Linked DNA regions of Homo sapiens: region 1 is linked to region 2. A link means that fine-mapping ties the variant in region 2 to the expression of a gene that starts in the linked region. Tissue or cell type: whole blood. Region 2 holds a variant in brackets; the other region holds the start of a gene. All regions are shown on one strand. Distances are from middle to middle.

Evidence for each region. PIP is the estimated chance that this variant, and not a neighbour inherited with it, causes the effect.
Region 1: SNX18 starts here. The variant in region 2 is fine-mapped to the expression of SNX18 in whole blood (TOPMed, PIP above 0.99).

What each region holds. Positions count from the first base shown.
Region 1 is chr5:54,513,115-54,521,301 of GRCh38, forward strand. It overlaps SNX18 (sorting nexin 18), which reads left to right and starts at 4,645. Exons shown (of 2, transcript NM_001102575.2): 1 at 4,645-6,459. The coding sequence starts at 4,839. RefSeq lists silencers at 4,399-4,640, 4,521-5,080 and an enhancer at 5,553-6,497.
Region 2 is chr5:54,586,268-54,594,454 of GRCh38, forward strand. It overlaps a transcript of SNX18 not described here. Among named protein-coding and RNA genes, the nearest start is that of SNX18, 73 kb to the left of the region's middle. The variant T/C (reference allele first, on the strand shown) is at 4,749.

The DNA of each region.
Region 1 (8,187 bases), 73 kb before region 2:
CTTGTTCTGTTGCCTAGGCTGGAGTGCAGTGGCATGATCTTGGCTCACTGTAACCTCCACCTCCTGGGTTCAAGCGATCCTCGTGCCTCAGCCTCCTGAGTAGCTGGGACTACAGGTGTGTGCCACCATGCATGGCTAATTTTTTTGTATTTTTAGTAGAGGCAGGGTTTTGCCATGTTGGCCAGGCTGTTCTCGAACTCTTGACCTCAAGTGATTCACTCACCTTGGCCTCCCAAAGTGCTGGGAGTGCAGGCTTGAGCCAGGCTTTCTATTAAGCCTAGCTACAAACCTTCTAGTAAATGGCTGTTGCTCTTCATTTTACTTTATTTATAATATATAAAATATATAAAGTATAAAACAATATTACATATACGTGTGTGCATATGTGTGTGTACACACATATACACACGCATGTGTGTGTACACATATATACACGCATATGTATAAAATGTATACCTATATAATTTTTATTTATATATAAATTTATATATAATATATATTTATATATAATATATAAATTTATATATTATATATTTATATATAATATATAAATTTATATATATTATATATTTTTATATAATATATAAATTTATATATAATATATATTTATATATAATATATAAACTTTTATATTATATAAATTTATATAATATATAAATATATAATATATAAATATATATGATATATATAAATTTATATAATATATAAATATATAATATATAAATATATATGATATATATAAATTTATATAATATATAAATATATATGATATATATAAATTTATATAATATATAAATATATATGATATATATAAATTTATATAATATATAAATATATATGATATATATAAATTTATATAATATATAAATATATATGATATATATAAATTTATATAATATATAAATATATATGATATATATAAATTTATATAATATATAAATATATATGATATATATAAATTTATATAATATATAAATATATATGATATATATAAATTTATATAATATATAAATATATATGATATATATAAATTTATATAATATATAAATATATATGATATATATATTTATATAATATATAAATATATATATCATATGTATAAATTTATATATTATATAAATATATATGATATATATAAATTTATATATTATATAGAAATTTTAATATAGTATATATAAATTTTTATATATTATATATAAAATATATATAATATATAATATATAAATAATAAAAAATTGTATATATAAATTTTTATATACATAAAACATATATATGTAGGTGTGAGCCACTGTGCTGGGCCTGGATGCTGTTTAATAATAGTAGTAGTTTTGAGGCGCCAGCAGAGTGCAGACCTGTGACACAGTGAACCGAAGTTCTCAGGACAGCTGAGTAGCTGCTGGGTCATTCCTCAGTCACCTGACCTCAGCAGACGACCCTCTCTGCAGTTGGCTGTCCTGATCTGGGATAGTGGGGATGGCAATATCTGCTCCATGCATGGATGAGTTGGTGTGAAAATACGGCAGGAAATAACACAGGAAAGGTGTAAGTGCATCTAAAATCATATGTACATATTTGTGTAATGCTTGATGCATTACATGAGTGTTTTCAAGTAAAATATAGTGTTAATTTTAATAATGACCCACTCTGTAATAGTGAAATTTCTAACAATCTGAAAATTTGCAGTGGTGTTCTGGGTGGTTGTGTTACCTTTAACGTTGTTGATTTAAAGAGGAGTGTTACTTAGCTGCCTTAGAAACAGTTACAGCTGGGTGGCAGAGGGCACCAGGCAAGCTGACCCAGACACAATAAGAGCTACTGGAGAGAGCTGACTTCATCTAGGGAGGATGTAAGTGGACATTCTTTCATTCATCTAACAAATACTAACTGGTTGCCTAACATGTCTGTTTTGTTCATTGCTATATCCTCAGTGCTCAGAAAACCTCATTGCCCTGAAAAGGTTTATGTTGTAATAGGGGAGGCCGTTAATGTATAGACGTGTTTATCTTAGGTCATAGTTGCTACAAAGAAAAGTGAGACTGTGGGATGGACAGGGGATGGGAGGGAGGGAGGGAGATTATATTAGCATAATTAGTACCAGCTGCCTCAGCAATCTCTGAAATTTCAGTGGCTTAGTCGGACAAAGGATTTTTCTCTCACAAAGTATGATTGGGGTCGGTGACTCAGGGACCCAGGCTCCCTCTGTCTTCCGGTATCTCCAAGGAAGGAGAAGAAAGGAGGGATGGAAAGCCCCATGGTTCTGACCGAATGAAGCGATGATGTGGCATGGTGGATCTCCCGGGGAAGAGGGCTCCAGGGAGAGAGAAAAGCGAAGGCAAAAACTTCAGCAAGAAACGTGCTTGACTTGTCCCAAAAATAGCAAAGCAACCACTGTGGCTTCTTTCAGTGGAAAAGGGGGCTGGAAAGATAGCCAAGGGCCAGGCTATCTAAGGCCTCTCAGGCCAAGGGAGGAAGTAAGAAAATGCAATTGTTTGGGGTCATTTAGTGTCCCCTAAAAACTTTACAGAAGCATATGGGTGGTTATAATGATTGTGTAAACTAAACTGTGAATAATATGCTCCATTTTCTAGAGAAATCTTTACAAAATGTGTTACTGTATCTATTTCCCTGAGTGAACAGTTATAGGTTGTTAATACTGGAGCACAATTTTCTACATATCTAAGACCCTCTAGAGGTAGGGGTTTTCCTGCCACTAGTGGCCATAGGGCCAAACATCATGACAGCCTGTCCTCATCCTTCTGGAAGCCTGATGCGCGGCAAGCACAGAGGCCTCCCACTGGACTCCTACAAAGTAAGCACCTGCAGACGCCCATGCCCCAGTGCTACAAACAACCTTGGACACCCAATAATTCCTCAACCACCATTTCTACAGAGTAGCTCAACCAGTCTGTAAAAAATCATCACCTTAAACTCCTGGAATTTTCACACCTGAAATAAGCCCAAAGTTACTGTACTTAACTCTAATCTAAAAAGTAACTACTAAACGAACAGAAGGGGCGAAACTAAATTTATTTATCTTACATATTCTAGGTTAGCTTTTCAGAAGTAAAATGAGTCATATTCTAGAGGTTTAGTTAATGTGGACTTCATGTTTCTGACCACATGAAATGTTGGCATTGAAATTCAATGATCCCTGTTGCTTACTGTGAGAATAGTCAAAACCCAGAATTTTCAGCTAAAAATGTAATTTAGAATATGCTTACTGAATTGAATTAAGGTTTTGCATTAGGATAAACACTGTGGGAGTGATTCTGGTATAGTGGGTTTGTGTTTTTGTGCAAGATGCTTACAATACCACAGCCCTTAGAATAATTGTACACTCTTCTGGCCCGTTTCCCAGGTTTCCTTGAAAAGGGTCAGAGGACAGGCTGAAATTAATGACACATGAATGCAGAACCTCAATTAGAAGTGTCTTCAAAGGAATAATTAGGCTAGACTTAATAAGAGGGGATTAAGAGAAGAAAAAGCTTTGGGCAAATTATACACTGAAGGAAAGGAAGATAGGAAACAAGGCAACGATAGATTGGAGCTGATTATTTCAGGAAGTGATTTTTGTTCTATTTATCTTAAAAATAATATAAATATAGTGAGACATAGAGACAACAGATGGATGGATGGTCACTGACCTCTTACTAGGAGTGGCAATGTGAACATTGGGACGCTTCCTGGTGCATGTACCCTGCAATTGTTAGTTTAGTACCCCTATTCCCTTTGTGAAAGAGGCCAGGGATTTTGCTTCCCCCAAATAACAGTAACAGCAGCAAAAGCAGCAACAAACCCTTCAAATCTGCTTACCCTGCCAGATATTGTTTCACTTTCCTCATCTGTAAAATAGGGATTACTTTATGATGGAATCCCCACAACAACCCCCGGAGGTAGGTACGATATAAGTGCCTTGTTCCAGGTCATACAGCTAGGTAGTGTCAGAACACAGATTGAAATTCAGAAGCCTGGCTCCGAAGTTTGAGCTCTCATTCACCGCACTACATATATCTATGGGAGGATAGGCGACACATGCATGTAATAAATGTGTGAGCATTTATTGTACTGGAAACTCTCCAGCTCCTCCCTCTCTACATGATCCTTTGCTTCTAATTTTGTCAATCACAGCACCTTCCCTGGCCCTTACTTTGTTCTTGCCAATCTCCTCTCCTTGAGCAGAAGAGGGAAGGGAGCCTGCTCTGTAGGTGAACAGCTCCTCCGCAGAGGCATCCTGTTTTCTTAGTGCAATCACTAATTCGCATTGCAAAATGCTTTATTACATGACTGGGTTGCCATTCTAGGAGCATTCACTGAGCGCTCAGAGTGGGAACGTTTATCAGGCATGCAAATGCTAACTTACTTTCTAGAGAATGTTTAACTTAAAAGCCTAAAGAAATCTCAGATAATTCACTTCGGAGTAGAAACCTCCTTCAGCCGCGCTCACTACGGCGCCCGGCTTCGCGGCACCGGCCACTAGAGGGCAGTGGCCGCCGCAAAGCCGACGCGGGCGGTGGGCTCGGCGGCTCGGCCATCGCTTGCTCTCGCCTGGCAAGGGGCTCTCGGCCGTGGATTAGCGCAGCTGGAGACGTGGGAGGCCGCGGGCCCCGCCCCCGACCGGCGGCGGCTGCGGCGGCCCAGCGCGGCAGTCGGCGCTGCGAAGTGGAGGCGCTGCGAGCGGAGCCGCGCGGAGGGCGCGACCGGCTGGTCCGGGCAGCGTGGGTTTGCCGCCTTCGGGGCTCCAGTCCGCGCGCCAGGGCTCGAGCAGTACCGCGGGCCCCTCAGGTGGGCCTCGGCTCGGGACGCCGGGAGTCGGGACCGCCAGTCGGGGCGCCGGGACCATGGCGCTGCGCGCCCGGGCGCTGTACGACTTCAGGTCGGAGAACCCAGGAGAGATCTCGCTGCGAGAGCACGAGGTGCTGAGCCTGTGCAGCGAGCAGGACATCGAGGGCTGGCTCGAGGGGGTCAACAGCCGCGGCGACCGCGGCCTCTTCCCGGCCTCCTATGTGCAGGTGATCCGCGCCCCCGAGCCTGGCCCGGCGGGAGACGGCGGCCCGGGCGCCCCGGCCCGCTACGCCAATGTGCCCCCCGGGGGCTTCGAGCCCCTGCCTGTCGCGCCCCCCGCCTCCTTCAAGCCGCCGCCTGACGCCTTCCAGGCGCTGCTGCAGCCACAGCAGGCGCCGCCTCCGAGCACCTTCCAGCCGCCCGGCGCGGGCTTCCCGTACGGCGGGGGCGCCCTGCAGCCGTCGCCTCAGCAGCTCTACGGCGGCTACCAGGCCAGCCAAGGCAGCGATGATGACTGGGACGACGAGTGGGACGACAGCTCCACGGTGGCGGACGAGCCGGGCGCTCTGGGCAGCGGAGCATACCCGGACCTCGACGGCTCGTCTTCGGCGGGTGTGGGCGCAGCCGGCCGCTACCGCCTGTCCACGCGCTCCGACCTGTCCCTGGGTTCCCGCGGCGGCTCGGTCCCCCCGCAGCACCACCCGTCGGGGCCCAAGAGCTCGGCCACCGTGAGCCGCAACCTCAATCGCTTCTCCACCTTCGTCAAGTCCGGCGGGGAGGCCTTCGTGCTGGGGGAGGCGTCAGGCTTCGTGAAGGACGGGGACAAGCTGTGCGTGGTGCTGGGGCCCTATGGCCCCGAGTGGCAGGAGAACCCCTACCCGTTCCAGTGCACCATCGACGACCCCACCAAGCAGACCAAGTTCAAGGGCATGAAGAGCTACATCTCCTACAAGCTGGTGCCCACGCACACGCAGGTGCCGGTGCATCGGCGCTACAAGCACTTCGACTGGCTGTACGCGCGCCTGGCGGAGAAGTTCCCGGTCATCTCCGTGCCCCACCTGCCCGAGAAGCAGGCCACCGGCCGCTTCGAGGAGGACTTCATCTCTAAGCGCAGGAAGGGCCTGATCTGGTGGATGAACCACATGGCCAGCCACCCAGTGCTGGCGCAGTGCGACGTCTTCCAGCACTTCCTGACGTGCCCCAGCAGCACCGACGAGAAAGCCTGGAAGCAGGGCAAGAGGAAGGCCGAGAAGGACGAGATGGTGGGCGCCAACTTCTTCCTGACCCTTAGCACGCCCCCCGCCGCTGCCCTTGACCTGCAGGAGGTGGAGAGCAAGATCGACGGCTTCAAGTGCTTCACCAAGAAGATGGACGACAGCGCGCTGCAGCTCAACCACACGGCCAACGAGTTCGCGCGCAAGCAGGTGACCGGCTTCAAAAAGGAGTATCAGAAGGTGGGCCAGTCCTTCCGCGGCCTCAGCCAGGCCTTTGAGCTGGACCAGCAGGCCTTCTCGGTGGGCCTGAACCAGGCTATCGCCTTCACCGGAGATGCCTATGACGCCATTGGCGAGCTCTTCGCGGAGCAGCCCAGGCAGGACCTGGATCCCGTCATGGACCTATTAGCGCTGTATCAGGGGCATCTGGCTAACTTCCCGGACATCATCCACGTTCAGAAAGGTAAAGCCTGGCCCTTAGAGCAGGTGATATGGAGTGTATTGTGCAGGCTGAAAGGGGCGACTTTGACAGCAGTACCACTGTGGGTTTCAGAATCATATTCTACAGGTGAGGAAGCGAGCAGAGACGTGGACGCCTGGGTCTTTTCCCTAGAGTGTAAGTTGGATTGCTCGACAGGCAGCTTCCTCCTCGAGTATCTTGCATTAGGGAATGAGTACTCTTTCTCGAAGGTTCAAAGAGTACCTTTGATGACAGTGCTATCATTTTAGAGTTTGAATAGTTGAGTAATGAGCTGCTCAAATCTGTAATCTTGAGACGAGGGTAGAATTAGAAGGGGACCTAAACCATGTTAGGTATCTGTTTGAACACTGCACTGTCACTTAGTGGTGAGTTTCAAAAAGTGAGGAAATAATGGAGAAGAACGGATGTCTGTAAATAGAAATCTGCTTTCACCCTTCCACACCTCTCAATCTCTGCTTTGGTAGAGGAATTAAGATCAATTCTCTGAGTTTAAGAAATTCCTGCAAAGAATTCTTGCCTGCAACCTTTACGAAGTGAAGTAATTTCAGGAAAAGCGTACTCATTTTGAGTTTGAAATCTATTAATGTACTGAAATTGAGAACGTTGTTTAGGAAAATTGTTTAGGGAAACTACATAGAATGAATATAATCTGAGTATTGGATCTGAGAGCAGCGTTGCTGGTATCCCAGTGAGTTAGCTGTCCAACTATCAGAGTTCATGAGTTATTAATAGTTGTTAGTGTCTCTGACCTTTGCTAAAGCACCAGAATTTGCAAATTAAAAAAATATATAGCAGTAGTGCTTGTCTTAACATTTCTTACTAATGTGCATTCTCATATAATGCCTTGATTGAGAGAATGGGGAGGTGTGGGAGTTAGGGAGGCAGTCTTGCCTGTGAAAGTCCAGTGTAGGGGCGGCTGGGCAGGGAAACCTACTCCTGAGCAGGGAAACCTACTGTCCCTGTTTCCTCAGCGGGTCTGGCCTTTACTGGTGAAGTGCTCACTGCCTTTCTGGTGGGCCAGTCCGTTTATGAGCAACCCTGATCTCTGGCATGTCTTTTCTTGTATTGAACTGAAGTTTGCCTCCCTTGATTGTCTTTCTGTTCCCTGGGACCGCCTTCAGACATTTGGAGACAGCAGTCTCGCTTCCTTCCTCTCTGCTTCTCTCCTTCCCCTTCCAAATGCGTGACTGGTCTTCTGACTCCTATGGGGGAAGGGGCTTGCTGGGAGAATGATCAAACGTTTTCAGTCTTGTTGCTGCCGCTGAAAGGGAGTACCCTGGACATCAGTACTAATTTTAGTAGACAGTAGTAACTTTCTTGGCAATTTGCGATTTGTAAATGCAGTCTAATATTGAATTCGTTTTTTGTGCAATCATATTGCTGTTGGCCTGTATTAAACCTGTATTTACATTACCTATGCCTTTTTTTAAAACATAAATTGTTATGAATCTTTGACTTTTTTGACTGGTGTTGGTGGAACTGCCTTTGTGAGCCTTTAATGGAGGGATTTAGCATTTAAATTCCATTGTGTTACATCATTCTGGACCTATGCTGGCTGCCCTTTTACACATTTCTGTGAGTTTGTGCAAATTACTGGTGAACAGTTGAAAGGATGGAACCAAGTACAGACACTTGGACATGTGTGCTGGGCCGCTGGTGTCTGTCTACTTTAGGTTGGCATCAGTTCATTCACTGTCAATCACACCATGC
Region 2 (8,187 bases):
TCTCCTGTGTATTATATCCTCTAGCCACCAAGTCCTTCACTAGCAACTATTTACATCTGCAGCCTGGCGTGATGATGCCGTGGGGAAATGAGGGACAGAGCAGAGCTGGCCATGGGGGCTATATTAGTCCATTTTCTGCTGCTATAAGAGAATACTGCAGAGTAGGTAATTTAAAAAGAAAAAAAAATGTTGATTTGACTCATGGTTCTAGAGGCTGGAAAGTCCAAGAACATGGCACTGGCATCTGGCAAGGGTCACCCCATGACAGAGGGGCAGAAGGAATATGAGCGTGCAAGACACGGATTAAATCAAGCTGAACTCATTGTTTAATGAAAACCCCACTTCTGTGATAACTAACCCATTAATAACAGCATTAATCCATTCATGAGCGCGGAGCCCTTATGGCCTAATCACTTCTTAAAGGTCCTACCTCTTAATACTATCACAATGGCAATTGAATTTCAACATGAGTTTTAGAGGAGACATTCAGACCATACATAGTAGGATCATAGCTTGCTCCATGTCACCCTGCTATGAAGCCAGCAGCAAAGTCAGGGCAAGCCAAGGATGGAAGGAGCCCATGATACAGAGGAGAGTGGCCTGACTCATGAACAGGCATTTGTATATAAATATAGATATGTCTCACAAATACAGCAGAGGAAGGAACCCTTGCTGGAGAAAGAGGTGAGCACTCTGTAAGGTTAATGGGAATTTATTTCCTTTTTTTTTTTTTTTCCTGAGCAGCCCCTCTTTTAGGGAGGAAGTCTATTACTCCAAACTCCTGATGGCAGAGTTAAAGCCTCACAGGTCTGAACAGATATTCCCCTGGGATATTCAGCTTTTGGGGAACAGCCAGCTCAACAGTGAACCTCTAATCTCATGGCAAATTATTTAAATCTGAGAATCCATTCAAGTCTTATTTTGAGTACCCTAGTCCATCCAATATCTTTTAATAATTTTGTATCTCAAAAAAAGAAGGGAATTGTCCTTACGTAAAAGTTGGTATGTAAACAAAAGGTTATAAACAGGTTGGTATGTAAACAAGTGGTTTTCTGTAAACAAGTGGTTATTTATATCCTATTAAGTACTATATACATCAACAGTATATAAATAATAGTCCCTGGCCAAGGCAAAGACATAATCTATTGCGTCTTCTGCTGGAAAAGAGAATTGCTCTTACCAGAATAAAGGACTGTGCTCCAAAGGTGAATTAATGTTTTCATCTCTATAGACTAAAAACTTGTCAATAACTTCCAAAAGCAAAAAACTCCTTAATGTCCTTTCTCTCCGTGGTGCCCAATTACTTGCACCTGCACACGGCATGCACTCATTGTTGGTGCTGCCAGTGTTCCAATCCCTTCTACTGAACCCTGCAATGCTCTCAGAGCCTGCTGCTCTTCTTTAGTTCACTTGGCAGTTAATATGATGTTGAAAACACCACCATTCATTAAGAGTGGAGGGGTACAGCACCATTGCTTTCAATTCAGATGGTCTGTGGTAGAGACTACAAGTGGTCACCTATTTCCATTCTTTCACTTTTGTGCACAGCACCAAAATCCCCAATATTTTTTAAGGCACGTGGCCATCAAGGATACAGTGTGACTGTCTGTGCTTCCCTTGCAGTTAGATGTGGGCATAAGATGACATCCTGGACAATGGATTGTGAACGAATGTGATGAGGCCATCTGCCAGGTTGTGTCCATGAGAGGAAGGTGTACACCCCTTTTGCCCTTTCTCCTTTCATAGAAGGAGGACAAGTTGCGGAAGAAGCCAATCTTCTAGGGAATCCAAGCAACCCAATCAAGGAAATCTGGATTTCTGACACCAGTACTCAGTGGCAGAAGTTCCCAAACACTCTCGTTTCATAGTATAGTGTCGCCATAATTTTTTCATATTGACTCTAGGCCAAAAGAATGCCTAAAAATTCTGTTTCTAGGCAGTTGTATCTAAGCAATTTGCTATGTCCTAACAACTTAGAAGTCATTTGAAAAAAAAATAATTCAAATACATTGAAAGAAAAAATACTGTTATTTCTATTCTTTTTTTTTTTTTTTTTTTTTTTTTTTTTTTTTTTTTTTGAGACGGAGTCTCTCACTTTCACCCAGGCTGGAGTGCAGTGGCGTGATCTCAGCTCACTGCAAGCTCTGCCTCCCAGGTTCACACCATTCTCCTGCCTCAGCCTCCCGAGCAGCTGGGACCACAGGCACCCACCACCACGCCTAACTAATTTTTTGTATTTTTAGTAGAGATGGGGTTTCACCATGTTAGCCAGGATGGTCTCGATCTCCTGACCTCATGATCCACCCACCTCAGCCTCCCAAAGTGCTGGGATTACAGGCGTGAGCCACCGCACCCAGCTCTTATTTCTGTTCTTAAATAACCACAATCACTTACTAGTGGGATGCGTGCACCTGTTGAGCACTGTACACCTTCTCAAACCTTGGGATCACATTGGGTAACAGTACTGTCATTTACTTGCATTTTATCAGACCAGCCACTGAAAACCCAGCTTTGCAAAGGTATGATATCATCAAAGAGAATGTAACAAGATCTGAGGTTTGAACTCTGAACTACCTCAAGCTAGTAATATGACAAATGTCAAGGTATCACTGAATTTTCTTTGAATAAGAAAAATTTACCATGGTATCCTGTGGTGCCTGGGTGCATAGTTTGGGAACCATGTCTGTGGAGCAACTATACTAGCTCTGGACTGTTTATATAAGAGAAAAATAAACTTCTATTGTCTTTAAACCACTATGATTTCAGAGCTTTAAGAGCACACTAATCTTATCTTATAGAAGGTTGAAACTATTAAGACAAAAGTGAAAATATGACTAGGCAGTTTAACCTGAAAGTTGCACATATACATTGACACCCCCAACCCCCTGCCCTGCGGTCACCTTCTGTTCCCCCAGGCCAGTCCTCTAAGTTGCATCCCTTTTCCTCTCATTTCTTTCCTTCTGCCTAGTAATTTGTTCCATTTCACTAGCTGCCGGCTCTCAGGGCAGCTGCCCTCCATGATCCCTGTGGCCTTTCCCTTCCAGAGACCCCTGTGTCTCTGCCCAAGCTGTGCCTTGTTGAAGGAGCTATATTTGCTTGTGTGGCAAACCCTGAGGCACGAGGGCCAGCTTTTCTCCCCTCACCACACATATGCCTTCTTAACTTAAGGGAAAAAATTCCATTCCCCTTCAGGGAACATTAAAGAAGTGGGGTAAAAAGCAAAGTTTTGGTTGCACGATAGGTTGAGTCCTCTAAACCACTTAAGAGGTATATTTCAAAATGAAGAAAGAATTTGAAGTACAAAGAATTAGTCAGGTATGAAAATCATTTAACCTTCGGCAAGCACCTAAAGCCAAACTCTATGGGGGTGCCCAACAGGCCGTGAGCTTGGAAGAGAAGTCGTTTCCTTCCCAAAGCTGACCTTTGAAAGTGAAGATGCTGCTCTAATATTACTTCTACTGGCCAGAGGGGGAAATGCCCAGTCAATGGATTCTGCAAAACTAGAGGAAACCAGGGCCCTGTGATATTGATTCTCTTCTAACTCCTACAGAGAAGTTTTCTCTCCACGTCTTTGTTTGAGACAGAGTCTTGCTCTCTCAACTAAGCTGGAATGCAGTGGCGAGATCATTCTCCCACCTCAGCCTCCCGAGTAGCTGGGACTACAGGCACACACAACCATGACCAGCTAATTTTTAAAATTCTTTGTGGAGATGTGCATTTACTATGTTGCTCAGGCTGGTCTCAAACTCCTAGCCTCAAGCCATCCTCCTGTCTGGACCTCCCACAGTGCTGGTATTATAGGCGTGAGCCACTGCACCCAGCCCTCTCCAAGTCTTAAGGCAAACTGTAGCCACTTTCCTCTTGAGGTAAAGTAGACATGGCCTCTTCCAGTTGACTTCTTCCAATATGTTTCAGTAGTTAGAAATTCAAATGAGATAGCAATCCATTCCCTCTGATGCTGGCTAGTAAGGCCAAAAGGAGTATTTCCAATGCTGTCAGATGTGTCAGCTTCTGTGAGGAGTTGAGTCCAGCAGAGGGTGTTTGATTTATGTAGTTCTAGACGGGGGGCATTTCTAGTAACTGAAATAGTTGAGAATCCTACTCTGAATCACTTCCCTAAGCCCCTTTTGTTTTAGTGCCATTCTTTGTTAAAGCCTAAGTCAGATTATTGGTTTCTTTTGAGCAGAAACTGCAACAGATAAGGCCTGTCTCCCTAAGCCAGATCCATGTGATCATTGCTTTTGATCTGACAGCTACTGGCAGGAGTGTAGCTAGTGCAGGTGATGTGGATTTCGCCCTGGTCAGTGACCCCCTACTTATACCTGACTAGCTCTCCCCAACCCCAACCCCAATCTTTGGTCTTTATTCCAAAAATGCAAACCTATTTAGATATCCAACTAAGCAGACATTAAATGGGAAGGAAAATACATTTTTGAAAAAAAGTATGATGACATGTTTCAAACCCAAGCCCTTTTTTCTCAGACAGTCCCCTGCTTCGGCATCCTGTCCACACGGCTAGTGTGTAATCCGTTGCTTGCTTACTGGTCTCCCTTCCTCCCTAGATCCTGAGCTCCATGAGGGCAGGAAGCATGGCATGGTTATCTCCTGCCTGACGCTCGCCACTTGGTGCATGATGAGTAAATGTTCATTTGATATGAATTCTCCCCTCACTGGCATGGCTTAGTGAAAGCTAAAGAAACAGAGTAAAGTAAGTGAAGTTCAGCTCATCCTCCCCATCCCCCCTCACT[T/C]CTCCTTTTTTCTTCCTTCCCCTGATGTCCTCATCTCTCTCCCTGTCTCAGAAGCACTGTCAGCTTCCATAAATTACAGGAATAAACACCTAAAGGTACCACTCTTGACCACATTCTGAGATTTGACCCAGACCTTGCTTTTTTGTTTTTTGGGTTTTTTTTTTGTTTTGTTTTGTTTTTTTGAGACACGCTTTTGTTCTGTCAGCCAGGCTAGAGTGCAGTGGTGTGATCATAGTTCATTACAGCCTCAACCTCCTGGGTTCAAGCAATCTTCCCACCTCAGCCCCCAGAGTAGCTGGGACTACAGGCCTGCTGTACATCTCCTGGCTAATTTTTAAATTGTATTATTACTTTTTGTAGCAATGGGGTCTTGCTATATTGCCCAGGCTGGTCTCGAACTCCTTGGCCCAAACAATCCTCCTGCCTTGGCCTCCCAAAGTGCTGGGATTACAGGTGTGAGCCACCATGCTCAGCCTGTCTTGGACCTTTGGCTGCAAAGTGCTGAGCACAGAGCCATGCAAGGGAAGGTGGGCAGGAAAGCTTGCACCATTTGTTGGTGGCACTGTGAGCACTCAAAATGATGTCCCCCTTTGACTACTGTGGTAGATGTCACTAATGTTCTCCTTTACCTCCTAGTAGAAAGAGAAATATCTTTTCTGCCCTTTCGAAGTTAGGTGTAACCATGTGACTTGCATTGGCATAAGAATTAAGAGCTTCCACACTTTGCCCCAGTCACAGTTGTCAGAGCAGTGCATACAAATGTGTTTTTAGACAGAGGTGCCACAAGAGCAAAGAATCCTGGATCATTGAGCTGTCACCTGAGGAGAGTCACCCTGACCCCCAATGAGCTTTGCATGTGCAAGAAATAAATATTTGTTGTTTTAAGCCACTACGAGTTTTGGAGATTGTTTGTTGCTAACAAATATCTTGGCCTATCCTGGCTGATATAACTACCTTCTGTACTTTGCTTACTCTGTCCATATTTCAATTGTTTATTAATCATAAGGTGCCCTGTGAAAGCAAAAGTCAGGCTAGTGGCTCTTATGGTCTTTAACAAATGTGATGGCAACATATCACTTTCAAAATTGTTCAAAAGGCTTCACTTGGGAAATGTGCCAGAGGGGAGCTATTGCTTTTCTTCATCTGCCCCTTTACTATACCCTCGCCTCCCACTTCCTTCCCACACATGGTGACCTGGGACACTTCATGTGAGATCTGCCGAATTTGGCCTCCACAACTCCAGAATCAACCTTCCCTTCTTTTCTTCATCTCACCTGAGCTGCCTCCACCTCACGACACTCTTCTCAGATGGGTGTTACAGAGGTGCCAGGAATTCTTCTAGAAGTAACTAACTCCTAGCACTTGTGAAATCAAAGCCCATGGACAACAAATTGCTCTCCATTTGTGGACACATGGCTTCCCTGAATGTGCAAGACAGATCTAATTCTCAATGGTTGCCTGGCACTGGTTAGCTCTGGACCCACGGACACTTTCACTGGTAAAATTACTGAGATGATGATCGTGAAGCTTAATGAACAAAACATGACTAAATTAACTTGTGGTCAGTCAACAATTCAATCCGAGGACACTGACACTGTCTCCCACAATTGGCTTGACTGTAACAGGGCAATGCATGAATAACATAGGGAGACTGAGCTTTGCCTTTGGATAAATGTTCTACACTTGCCAACATAGGAGAGCAGTGGATTTTCAATGTAAGATGATAATGACGTGGGTTTGTTCTCATTTCTGCCTCTTGCTGAGTCCTTACCCTAGAAAAATCACAATTCTGTTTTTGTTTTTGAGATGGAGTCTCACTCTGTCATCTAGGCTGGAGTGCAGTGGAGCAATCTCAGCTCACTGCAACCTCCACCTCCCAGGTTCAAGCGATTCTCATGCCTCAGCCTCCCAAGTAGCTGGGATTATAGGCGTGTGCCACCACACCTTGCTAATTTTTGTATTTTTAGTAGAGACCGGGTTTCATCATGTTGGCCAGGCTGGTCTCAAACCCCTGACCTCATGTGATCCACACGCCTCAGCCTCCCAAAGTACTGGGATTACAGGCATGAGCCACTATGCCTGGCCCCACAAATATATTATTGATAGTCGGCTGCTCTATGAAAAAAATTCTAAGGGATCTACCTTCAGGAATATAGGTAAGTGAAAGTTGCAATTTTCTCTGGAAGGAATTTTAATTGTAGACATTTTAATTTACATTAAATCATTAATATATTTTCCTGTAACTCACTGTATAAGAAATCTTTCCTTCAGAACCTAATGGGGCTCAAAAGTAAAAATAAAAGTAAAAAGTCTTTCTTGACTGATCCTGGAGATTGGAGTGGGGAGAAACTACAGCAAGTTAAGAATAGAGTCTGGGCCTTAATAAATTGACAGATATACCATGTTCATAGATTGGAAGATTGAAGATTGAATATTGTTAAGACATTAATTATCCACAAAATGATCTATAGATCCAACTCATTACCTGTCAAAATCTCAGCAGTATTTTTTGTAGAAATTGATGATCATGTTCTAAAGTGTATATGAAAATACAAAGAACCTGGAAGAGCCAAAACAAATTTGAGAAAGATGAACGAACTTGGAACACTTATATGACCCGATTTCTAGACTTAAAGCTACAGTAATCCACAGAGTGTGGTGTTGGTGAAAGGATAGACATATAGACTACTGAAAAAACTATTCTTAACCTGGGCCCATTCATATATTGCTAACTGATTTTGACAGAGGTGCTAAGGTAATTCCATGGGGAAGGTATAGTCCTCTCAACAAATGGTGTAGAAACAATTGGATATCTACATAGGAAAAAAATGAATTTCAGTCTTCATCTATTATGGAAAACTCAACTTGAAATGGATCATAGACCTAATGATAAGAGTTAAAACTATAAAACTTAAAGAAAAGATAAGAAATCCTTGTGATCTTGGGTAGACAAACATTTCCTAGAGAGGCAACAGAGGCATGAGCTATAAAACAGATAATTGCCATAAAAGAGCCATAAAAATAAATGATAAGTAAATTGTTTCATGTTCATACAAAGCAACCCTACTCAGCATTACCAAGGAATAAACTGCTGATACATGCAACAATATGGTAATCTCAAAAGCACAATACTAAGTGAAAGATGCCAAATGCAAAAGATTACAGGCTATATTATTTCATTTGTATGAAATTTTAGAAAAAGCAAAACTTTAGTGTTAGAAAGCAGATCAGTCTTTGCATGGAGCCAGGGCAAGTGTCTAACTGCAAAGGGACATAAGGAAACTTTTGGAAAATATGCCTTGTGGTGCTGATTGTGTGACCATATGCATTTGTCAAAACTCATGAGACTGTACCCTTATGTGCAGAAAAGAGTTAACACAGCCAATCTGAGGTTGCTATTCTTAGAAAGGCCTGCTTGGAAGGTTGGCTCTTGGATGGT